Regions from separate parts of the Homo sapiens genome. Here region 2 is linked to region 1. Evidence: fine-mapped expression QTL. A gene starts in region 1. The other region holds a variant in brackets. All regions are shown on one strand. Distances are between the middles of the regions.

Region 1 (5,369 bases):
TGCTGGGATCACAGGCATGAGCCATTGTGCTTGGCCTCTACAAAAAAAAAAAAAAAAATTAGCCAGGCATGGTTGCTCACAATGGTAGCTGCTCAGGAGGCTGGGGCAGAAGGATTGCTTGAGCCCAGGAGTTGAAGGCTGCAGTGAGCTATGATCTTGTCACTGCACTCCAGACTGGGTGATAGAGTGAGACCCTGACTCTAAATAAATAAATAAATGTTTAAAAATGTATTAGTCACTGTTAGAGGTCACTACACTACACAGACTCATTATTTTGCAGAAGGGTAAAGAGAAAAAGCTGAGAATATATGTTACCTTTCCAGTTGGAATTGCATTTTAGTGTAAACTAAACCCAGTTGATGAGAGAAAGCCCTTCTTTACAAAGTAAAATAAGCGATAAACGTGAATTGAATGATAGGATTATAAAAATCACCATTTTGCAACCTCTAATGAAATCATTTAGTCAAGGATGGATCACCAGTGAATAGTGAAACCATTAGGTGAAAAGTTGATGAGGAACTAGATAGTCTCACAGTGCCAAAGTATCATCCAAGAATTACATGCTGGTCACATTAGAAAACCACAGCTTTACATACAGAGATCTGGCTGTCTCTACCTTAAACCAGTGATCAATTTTAACATCACTAATAGAACAGTCAGACATCATGTACTTCCTGAAATGATGCAATGAGAGGCATTTTGCTTTAAAAATTCTTTAATTTGATACAGTCAATACTTCATATATAACTTCTAGTTTACAGGAAATACAGGTGATATACAGGTTATACACTGGAGAAATACAGGGAAATACAACATGAAGAAAAAAATCAGATAAACCCAGAAGAAGAGTTCTAAAGAAAAATTGACCTGGTCTATCAACATGACAATGTCAAAAATGGGGGAGGGGAGAGAGGATATGGTGTCTATGCTAATTTACAGAGATTAAGAAACATAACAAAGGCCGTGGTTGTTCTTAATTGACTGTTATTTTGAACAAAACACCTGAAAAGAAAAGGCATTTTTGGGGAAACAATCTGAGAAATTTGAATATGAACTGAGCATTAAATTATATTAAGGAATGCCCGGGCGCGGTGGCTCACGCCTGTGATCCTAGCACTTTGGGAGGCCGAGGTGGGTGCATCACGAGGTCAGGAGATCGAGACCATCTTGGCTAACACGGTGAAACCCCGTCTCTACTAAAAATACAAAAAATTAGCCGGGTGCAGTGGCAGGCACCTGTAATCCCAGCTACTCAGGAGGCTGAGGCAGGAGAATGGCGTGAACCTGGGAGGGGGAGCTTGCAGTGAGCCAAGATAGTGCCACTGCAGTCTGGCCTGGGCAAAAGAGCGCAAGACTCCTTCTCAAAAAAATAAAAAAAAAAATTTAAAAAATTATATTAAGGAATTATTGTAAATTTTTTTAGGTGTCATAACAGCACTTAGGTTATGCAGGAAAATGTCCTTATTTCTTGGAGATGCATAATGAAATATTTAGAAGAGAAATGTCATGATGTCTATCATTCATGTTTAAATACTAAAAAGAAGCAAATATTGTAAAACATCAATAACCATTAAGTATGGATGATGAGTATGTAAGTATTCATTATGCATTTCTGTCCTTTTTAAATTTTATTTTATTTTACTGGAAAGCAAGAGAGGAAGGAGATCAAATCTGAACTTAAGAAGCTCACTCCCCTACTTATTGGATGACTAGAGTGGAAGCAAAAGAGCAGTTACTAGCTGATTGCTGCAGTGGTCGTGGTGAAAGAGCACAGTGTTTCAGTTCAGGTAGTGAGGATGGACAGAAGTGGACTGATGGGAGATGTATTTTGCAGGGAGAAACCATAAAATGATTGATAGCCTCGAGGTGGCACAGACGGAGAGAAAGGAGAGTCAAAGCTAATGATGAGGCCAGGCCCGGTAGCTCACACCTGTAATCCCAGCATTTTGGGAGGCGAAGGCCGTTGGATCACCTGAGGTCAAGAGTTCAAGACCATCCTGGCCAACAAGGTGAAATCCCATCTCCAATAAAAATGCAAAAATTAGCCGGGCAAGGTGCTGTGCGCCTGTAATTCCAGCTACTAGGGAGGCTGAGGCAGGAGAATGGCTTGAACCCAGAAGGTGGACATTGCAGTGAGCCAAGATCACGCCAGTATCCAGCCTGGCCAACAGAGCAAGACTCCATCTCAATAAAAAATAAATAAAAGCTAATGATGACAGCTAATATGTATGGAGCATGTAGTATGCACCAGTCCAGTCATCCTTCTAAGTGATCCATATTAGTGTAACGAACAAAATCTTCACAATCACTGTGTGAGGCGGGTAGTAACTATTAACACCTCCACTTTGCAGATCAGGAAACTTGGACGCAGACAAGTTAAACAAGGTGCCCAAGGTCATACCCTTAGTAGATGCCCTGCTAGAACTGGAATCTAGGCATGCCTAACCATTTTTTCTTAAGGAAGAGAACAGTATCTTCAATGACAATGAGTAAGAGTACTTATTCTACCCACTTTTCTGCTTCTTGTCTTCGGGTTTATCGTTCTGGACCCACCTATCTTTCCTGGCCCCCCACTTAACTTAACCCTTTTCACCCACCCTGGGGCGGGGAGACAGAGGTGATCCTAGAAGAGGGCTACAGGGATGGGGCCAAGTGGGAATTCTAGCGAGGCGCCTACTATTTGATGGAGGAGGGATGGGCTAGGTAGGTCCCCCGCTCCGACAGGGCTCTTACGCCATATGTGACGCAAATTAGCTTACGAGCCGGGGGTGGAGGTGTCGTCAGCACCCGCCTGCGGTTGGCCGCGTTGCAGCGAGAGGGGCATGTAGACCCCGCCTCGTAGGGAGGTGGGGAGCGGCAAGCCCCGCCTCAGCCCCTCTGGCAGGCTCCCGCCAGCGTCGCTGCGGCTCCGGCCCGGGAGCGAGCGCCCGGAGCTCGGAAAGATGCGGCGCCCGCGGCGGCCTGGGGGTCTCGGGGGATCCGGGGGTCTCCGGCTGCTCCTCTGCCTCCTGCTGCTGAGCAGCCGCCCGGGGGGCTGCAGCGCCGTTAGTGCCCACGGTCAGGAGGAAACTTGGGCTGGCGGGTGGTGGGGGGCGGGGAGCAGCTTGGGGCCTGGAGCGAAACTCGGTGGGGGTGAGGGTGAAATGTCATGAAGCTCGGGGAGAATATGGGTTGGGGGAGGCATGCGAGATGAGGAAGGTGAGAGGGCGTCTCGGAGGAAAGGGGCGTAGGCCTGGAGGTGGGGCTGGGAATACGGGGGCGGGACCTAAGAGAATTGGGCTCTGGGGAAAATTGCAGGTTCGGGAGAAGGACACGGGGTGCATGTGGGCAGAGGGACTTAGAGACCGGCTGCGAGACCACAGGAGAAGCCACTTGCTCCGAGGCGCCTGGGAGGTGGTGACAGGCGCTGAGGAATGGGAAGGGGAGGTGGCGGGGAGAATGAGGGAACGGTGATCTCTGGGCAGTGGAAGCCTGGGCCGCAGACATAGAGTCCCAGCTGGGCAGAGAGAGAGGCCAGGGTTTCTCCGTAAGCCTAGAGAAGCTGATTGCAGCGATCTGATCTCCTGTAACGGGGGACAGCACGGGGAGGGGGCAGAAGAGGATGAAGAGGGGAGGGTCCTCTCTTGTCCCCCTCCCCACAGCCAGGCCTGGTGCTGACTCACATCTGTGCGGACAGAGACAGTCAGCGCTGACTCACGGACAGGGGGTGGGGGATGGGAGGGTGGCGCGTGGGGGAAGGGGCGCAGCCTCGCCGCCTGGCGCCCTCTTTCCCCACCCGGGCTTGGAGGCCCGAGAGGCAGAGTACTTCCTGTGACGCTGTGGGTTGGCAGAATACAACAGAGGGCTCAGGTCTAGTGGAGAGTCCTCGCTCTGTGACCCCTTCCTCTCTGGTAACCGCCTCCAAGGCCAGCCCTTGGCGGCGCCAGACTCAGAGCTTCAGCACCGCGGACAGCGCCAGCGGCTCGGGACAGCGCGAGGAGAGATGCCTAAGAGACACCCTCCCCAGCCCCACCCATGCCCTCTTTCCCCCGACCGGGGGAAGTGTGCTAGAACCTCTTCTGAGTTCCAGGCCATTATAGGATGCTTTTCCATATTTGGGAAGGAAATTCCTCTTTCAGAATTTGGCCAAAACCTCTCCTGCAGTAATTCTATGAATCTCTCTCCCTGCACCTGGAAGGTTTCTTCCCTATCACTCAGTTAAGCAAACAGAGGCTTTTAAGGATACAGACTCACAAATTCTTAAAATCCAAAACAAGATCCCATGCTTCCTTTTAAGAAATTCAGGCCTGATTCCTACTCTCCTCCCAGCTTAAGGCCTTCTTTAGAATGAAAGAATAAATTGCATCTGCTTCTCCCGTTCCCAGCCTGTCCACCCATCTGCCCATTCTCTGTGAGTGGGTGTCTGAGCCTCTGCTCACCTTTTCCTCTACAGGCTGTCTATTTGACCGCAGGCTCTGCTCTCACCTGGAAGTCTGTATTCAGGGTGAGTGAGGCCCAAGCATAGAACTCACAAGATCGGGGGGAGAGGGGCAATAAAAAACAAGAAGGGGAGAGAAGGCCCAGAAAGGAAGAGGGCTACTGGGCTTGAGAAGAAGGAAGACTTGCCTGGAGGAGGAGAGGTAGGGGAGAAAGTGAAGAGAGTACAGTCCATTTGCAACCTGGACTTTGGAAGGCCTCTTATTCAAGCCCCCTGCTGACACCACTTTTGTGCCCTTAGATGGCTTGTTTGGGCAGTGCCAGGTGGGAGTGGGGCAGGCCCGGCCCCTTTTGCAAGTCACCTCCCCAGTTCTCCAACGCTTACAAGGTGTGCTCCGACAACTCATGTCCCAAGGTAAGGTCTGGGTGCACTGGAGGAGAGAGATTGGAACTTGGTTAGTTATGGGTGGGGAAGAAGATTTCTCTTCAAGGAATATTCCTATCACCCCCACTGCTGGAGCCTCACCTTCCCATATCTTGCTAGAGTAAGAGGTGGAACCCTAGAGATGGGCTATTCACATTTGGACTCTCTGGAGAAGCCCAGAGGAGCCTTCTAAGAAGAAGTCACTGGAAAAGGCCAGCTTCCATCTTCTTAGGACCAGTTCCTCTCACTGGCATTGTCTGAGTGCTACAGAGCCAAGAACTCTGGAATCCTCAGCCAGGATAATATTCCACTCACCCAATTCCTCATTCAACAAGTATTTATTGAGTACTTACTATGTAGCAGGCATAGTTTTAGGTATTTGGAATGTATCGGGAATAAAACAAAGATCTCTGCTTACTGGAGTTTCTGTTTGGGGGATAAGGGGAGGAAACACGCTATAAAAGTTAGAAAATACATAGTGTCTTAGAAGATGATAAATAGCATATAATATTATAGCAGGATAAAGTGA
Region 2 (5,316 bases), 28 kb after region 1:
CCTCACACAGTAACAACCCTGACCACTTAGAGTCTCTTATTTGGAATTGGCACACATGCATTTTGGCACCTAGGCTTGTGATTTTGAGCACAAGGAAGTATTCAGCTCTACCAGGTAGAAGCTCCTACCCTTAGGCAAGTCACTCAACATCCCTACCCCTCCCTTTCCTCATCTAGAAAGTGGGAATGATGGCCGGGCACAGTGGCTCATGCCTGTAATCCCAACACTTTGGGAGGCCGAGGTAGAAGGATCACTTGAGCCTAGAAGTTCGAGACTAGCCTAGGCAACATAGTGAGACCCCATCTCTACAAAATAGTTTAAAAATTAGCTGGGCATGGTAGCACACGCCTGTAGTCCCAGCTACACAGGGGGCTGAAGTGGGAGGACTGCTTGAGCCGAGGAGGTCGAGGCTGTAGTGAGCCATAATCGTGCTGGGCTGAGCACGACCCTGTTTCAAAAAAAGAAAAAAAAGAAAATGGGAATGATGATAGTGCCTTCATACTCAAATTGTTCCAATGATTAAATATGTCAGCCCATGTAAAGGGCTTGGTACGCAGTGCTGGGAGTCAGCAGGCGTGAAAGGTTAGCTGTGGTGACGGCCCTGCACAGCATGGTGTTGCAGGGGCAGTTCTGCTCCGGGAATCGTGCGTCCTGAGTTTGACTCCTGGCTCTACTCCTTACTTGGAAGGAAAGAGTCTTGGGCCTGGGCTACTTGGAAGTTAGGGTCATTTAACTATGCTGCAGCTCAGGCTCCCCAAATTAAAACTAAGTGGATACCATCTGCCCTGTGTACTCCCCCAGATGCTTGAAGAATACAGAGGATATCGTATATCTGGAAGTGCTTTAAAAATAGTAAAGTGCTTTGCAAATGTAAGGCACCCCACTCACAGTGACGGCGATGGCTTCGTGAGACTCCTTCACCCCCTTCCCGACATTGCCATCTCTGATCCTACCAGTCTGGCCTGTTGCCACTCCCTCCCAAGCCCTAAGTGAGTTCAGAGAGCAGCAGTTTGGGGAGGAGGCTGCTGAGGTTGGGGCTGGGGCTTCCTGCCAGGGGCTGGGTAGGGGAGCTGCTCCTCACCATTGATTGTGACTGACTTCAGCTGCCCATCCTCCTCCACTTCCACCCGCTCCTGCCCGTTCTCCATGATTCTGTGGGAGACAGCACAGTTCAGGCAACGAGCAGTGACAGAATCCTGCAGGCGCTGGTCCCAGTTCTGGCCACCGCAGTAGAGAGCGCAGACTGGGCCCTGCCCTCAAGGAGCCAACTTTCTATTTGAACACAGCTCCCCAGCAGACCTCTCACCCCTCTATGGCCCCAGAAGGAGCTCTCACCTGCGTGTGGTGATGCGGCGTCCTTGGACAAAGGTGGTAGATGTAGAAACAGAGCGAAAAGCACCAGCCCCAGGACTGAAGGAGAAAGATGAGGAGGAGAAATCTGGCATCGGGACAAGGGAGGAGGAGGAGAGGTGGTTAGAAGAAGACTGCGCTGCCTGTTGTGGTCACCGAGGCTCCAGGCCGCCTCGCAGGGCTGCTGGAGGCAGGGCTCCCAACACAGGAGACAGGCTTGGAAAAGCAACAAGCTCAAGCCAGGGGTTCCAGGAATCGGAGCTTGCAAACGTGGGAAGGGGCAGAACTTACCGGAGTGCCCAGGGAAGGAGGAAGAGAAGGTAAAGAAGGGGCCTGAGTGTCGGGAACCCCGGTTCTGAAGCTCTGAGAAGGGGCCCAGGTCATCTGCAACAAGTAAACAGATTAGCAGTCATCTGGTAATGACATTTCCCCTCAAAAGTGTGTGAGCCCAAGTCTGGAAGTATAAACCACTAAGCAACTGGGTAGGGTTTTTCTTTTCCGCTTTTTAGTTGGGCTTATTTATAAATTCCTTTTTAATGTTGAATTCGAAAACACTCACTGGTTAATTCTGTCCACAATAAAGAATAAAGGAAGGAAGGAGGGGGAAGAGGGATGGAGGACAGATGGCTCTTTCAGTACAGGCAAATCATCATGACGCGATGACAGGCAGACACAGCTAGGAGTCCAGCTCTGCCATGTGTTATGTGACTCTGGGCTATTAACTGTGCCTCAGTTTTCTCATCTGCAAATGGGGAGAAAATTGCCCACCTGTCAGGATTCACTAGAGACTTACGAAATGTAAAATATTTGGCACATATCTATCATTAAAAAATACCACTATCTGTTTTATAGGTAATAATAACAATATTGTCACAAGATGCTTTGAGTCTTGCTTTCATGGCTGTTACTATAGAAGTCTAACAATGTATTATTGTTGTAATTTAATAAGGTGAGTCTGTGAAGTGTCACTGTTGGATTACGGGGGTTCTGGCACACGTGAGGTTCTGTCCCGGCTCTCACTGGACCCAGCTCCACAAAATCTTCTGTCCGTGGCATTCCCGTCCCCTCTCAGCCTTCCACCTCAGGGCCTCCCAGCTGATGGAAGGACAGGCCTGGAGGGGGAAGTTGAGCCATTCAGAGGCTTCCAGAGTCCACTCACCAAAGAGCTCTGCAAAAGGGTCTCCACTCCCAAAGAATTCCCGGAAGACCTCCTCGGGGCTGCGGAAGGTGAAGGTGAAGCCAGGCCCACCACTGCCAGCTTCTGCCCGAGATGGGCCAGTTCCTGGAAAGG[C/T]AGGATGAGGAGAGAGCTTAGGGCATGCATCCTGCCCTGAGCGGGGGACCTCACCTAAGGCACAGCCAGGAGCCTGAGAGAGCCTCCATTGCAAGAATCTGCCCTGCCCCTCTCCTCCCTGCCCCACCTCCATTCCTGGGCCTCACCACTCCACCTACCTGTCCCTGTCAGCCCTTCCCGGCCATAGCGGTCGTAAATCTCCCGCTTGTGCTCTGCAAAAAGAGACCAGATCATTTCACCCTCCCTCTGGGATGGGCTCCCCTCCCAGGCTAGGACGTTCAAAGGATTGTCCAGAGACTGACACTCTGACACTTGGCGGGGGAAAGCAGGCACAGCAGGGGACCCAGGGGACACGGGCTATAGGTTTAGGCAGCAACTCAGCCTTTCACACAGCTGGCCTCTTCTCATCTGGAAAATGGCTGTCATCACAACACCTACCGCACAGGGTTGTTGCACAGATCAAATGAGACCATCCACGTAAACTGCCTACCAGTGCCTGACACATAGAAAGTGTTCAATAAATGTTAGCTAATGATTACTACATTATTATTCACCAGGGCTTAGCCTAAATGTCACCTTCTCGGAGAGGCCTTCTACAACCACCAGAACTAAAGCAAGTGCACATTATTCCCTAGCACTCCACCTGCCCTGTTTCTTCCCTCGGAATACTCTTCACAAGCTGTAACTGTGTCTGTGTGTGTGCCTGGTAGGTGTTGGTCTTCCCTGCCCCTCTGGGCAAAGACAGTGCCTGCTTGTCCTCCAGTTTCCCCAGCACCCAGCGAGTGCCGGACACTGTCACCATTCACTGAATTACTTTTCGAATGAATCAATAAAAAGGCAGACCTGGATTCATATTCCAGCTCTGCGTGGCCTTGAGCAAGTTACTTCACCTCTCTCAGCCTCAGTTTCCTTGCCTGTAAAATAGGGGTGATAGAACCTGCCTCATAGGACGGCTGTGAGAACTCATGGAGATGACACCCACCAATGCCTGGCACGCAGGAGGCTCAGCTCACATGAGTTACCTGCCCTGCTTCCTTCCCCTTTCAGGTCTCATGCCAGCCACTCCTACCAGACTCTGGGGAGCAGACACTGAGCTGTCCCTGTGGGAGGGGGGAGCTTAAATGTCAGGCTGGAAAAAGGCACAGAGGAAACTAGGTGGCAGAGACATTGCTTTAAGAAAATGTGAGCTGGGGCATGAAGTAGGGGGTGATGTGCTGGGTCCTGCCTGACCCCGGCCCTTACTGTCAGACAGCACTTCATATGCCTCGGCCACCTCCTTAAATTTCTTCTCAGCAAACTCTTTATTATCTGGGTTTTTGTCTGGGTGCCACTGGAGAGCCTTGCGCCGATACCTGCAGAAAGTGGGTGCAGAGGAGAGAGTCGGGGGACAAATGCAGGCACTTCCCACCCAGGAACCGAACGACCTGTTTTCCCATTAGCCTATCACTGTCCTTTCACCCCCGGGTCCCAGTCCACCCCAGCTGCTAGGGCTGCCGCTGCTGTGATATTTTCATCAAGTTCCACCCTCTCTCCTCCGCCACCAGTGCTGGGACCACATGTACAAGCGGATACAATGCCAGGGTCCCTAGCCCCTCCCTAGGGCTCACTGGACTGGGGCTGCAAAGGTTGGGGCACATGTGGCCTCGAAGAGTACAGGGACACCGGCCCCTCCTCCTCATAGAGCCTCTTTGCACTGCATCTTTGCACTGCAGCCTGAGAATGCCCAAATCTAGGGGGAAGGGGGAGGGGAGGGGAAAGGAGGAGGAGGAGGAGGAGGAGGGGAAGATCAACTGGAGAACAACCCATAACACAGTGCAGCTCCCAGAGGAACTAACTACTTCACTCTCTGGACGTTCTCCTTGTACTCTACCAGGGGTCTCTTTCCTCCCTGCAGGTGTCACTCGGAAGAAGCACCCCAGTGCTTTCTAACGACCTGGTTCCCTCAGACACCTACAGGTGTCACTCTGAAGTGCCCCATGGTGGTGGCGGGTGGAGGGTGAGAGGTCTTCTGTTGCATACGGAGGCACTTACGCCTTCTTGATGTCATCAGCGGACGCACTTCGCGGCACGTCTAGGATCTCGTAGTAGGATGCCATGGCAACTGGTCAGTCGTCAGGCGGGCCTCCTTGGGGCTGCAGAAGAGAAGGAGTCAGGCGGAAAGAACCAAGAGCCCCACCCTGTGGCTGCAGCAGTCCCCCTCCCCGGGTGGCGGAAGGCGCTCCCAGTTGGAAGCGGAGCACACCGGGCTCTGCTTGCGGCCGGTGACTAGGCTCCCTCCGGCAGCCTTATCTGCCCCCGCAGGCCGGGGCCAAGAGCTATCTCGACGCCCAGGCCCAGGAGCCCTATCGGGGCCCCCCAACTCCAGCAGTCCGATCCAGGGCCCCCAGCCTGACCCGGGCCCCCGGCCGCACCTCCTCCGCCAGGAGTCCCGGCCTCCTGCGGCGCCCCGCCCCTGCCCCCCGCCGGGAACCGTCTGGCACCCGCAGCCCGGCTCGCGGCTGCTGCGTAGGACGCGCCCGGCCCAGCTGTGCGCGCAGGCATGCGTCAGCGGTGCGGAAACTACTAGAGACGGGGAGAAGGCCGGCTCCGCCTGTCCCCTGGGGGGGTGGGGGCCTGCAGGGGCTGCCGGGAGAAGAGGGCGGAGCCGGCTATTTTGGGCACACACCAGGACGACG

What was found. PIP is the estimated chance that this variant, and not a neighbour inherited with it, causes the effect.
Region 2: its variant is fine-mapped to the expression of PTPRN in whole blood (TOPMed, PIP 0.94).

What each region holds. Positions count from the first base shown.
Region 1 is chr2:219,306,906-219,312,274 of GRCh38, reverse strand. PTPRN (protein tyrosine phosphatase receptor type N) reads left to right here and starts at 2,874. Exons shown (of 23, transcript NM_002846.4): 1 at 2,874-3,057; 2 at 4,433-4,483; 3 at 4,718-4,831. The coding sequence starts at 2,943.
Region 2 is chr2:219,279,255-219,284,570 of GRCh38, reverse strand. It overlaps DNAJB2 (DnaJ heat shock protein family (Hsp40) member B2), which reads right to left and starts at 5,205. Exons shown (of 9, transcript NM_006736.6): 1 at 5,053-5,205; 2 at 4,673-4,773; 3 at 3,884-3,993; 4 at 2,800-2,853; 5 at 2,510-2,632; 6 at 1,642-1,734; 7 at 1,336-1,438; 8 at 1,082-1,152. The coding sequence starts at 4,737. RefSeq lists a silencer at 4,881-5,316. The variant C/T (reference allele first, on the strand shown) is at 2,642.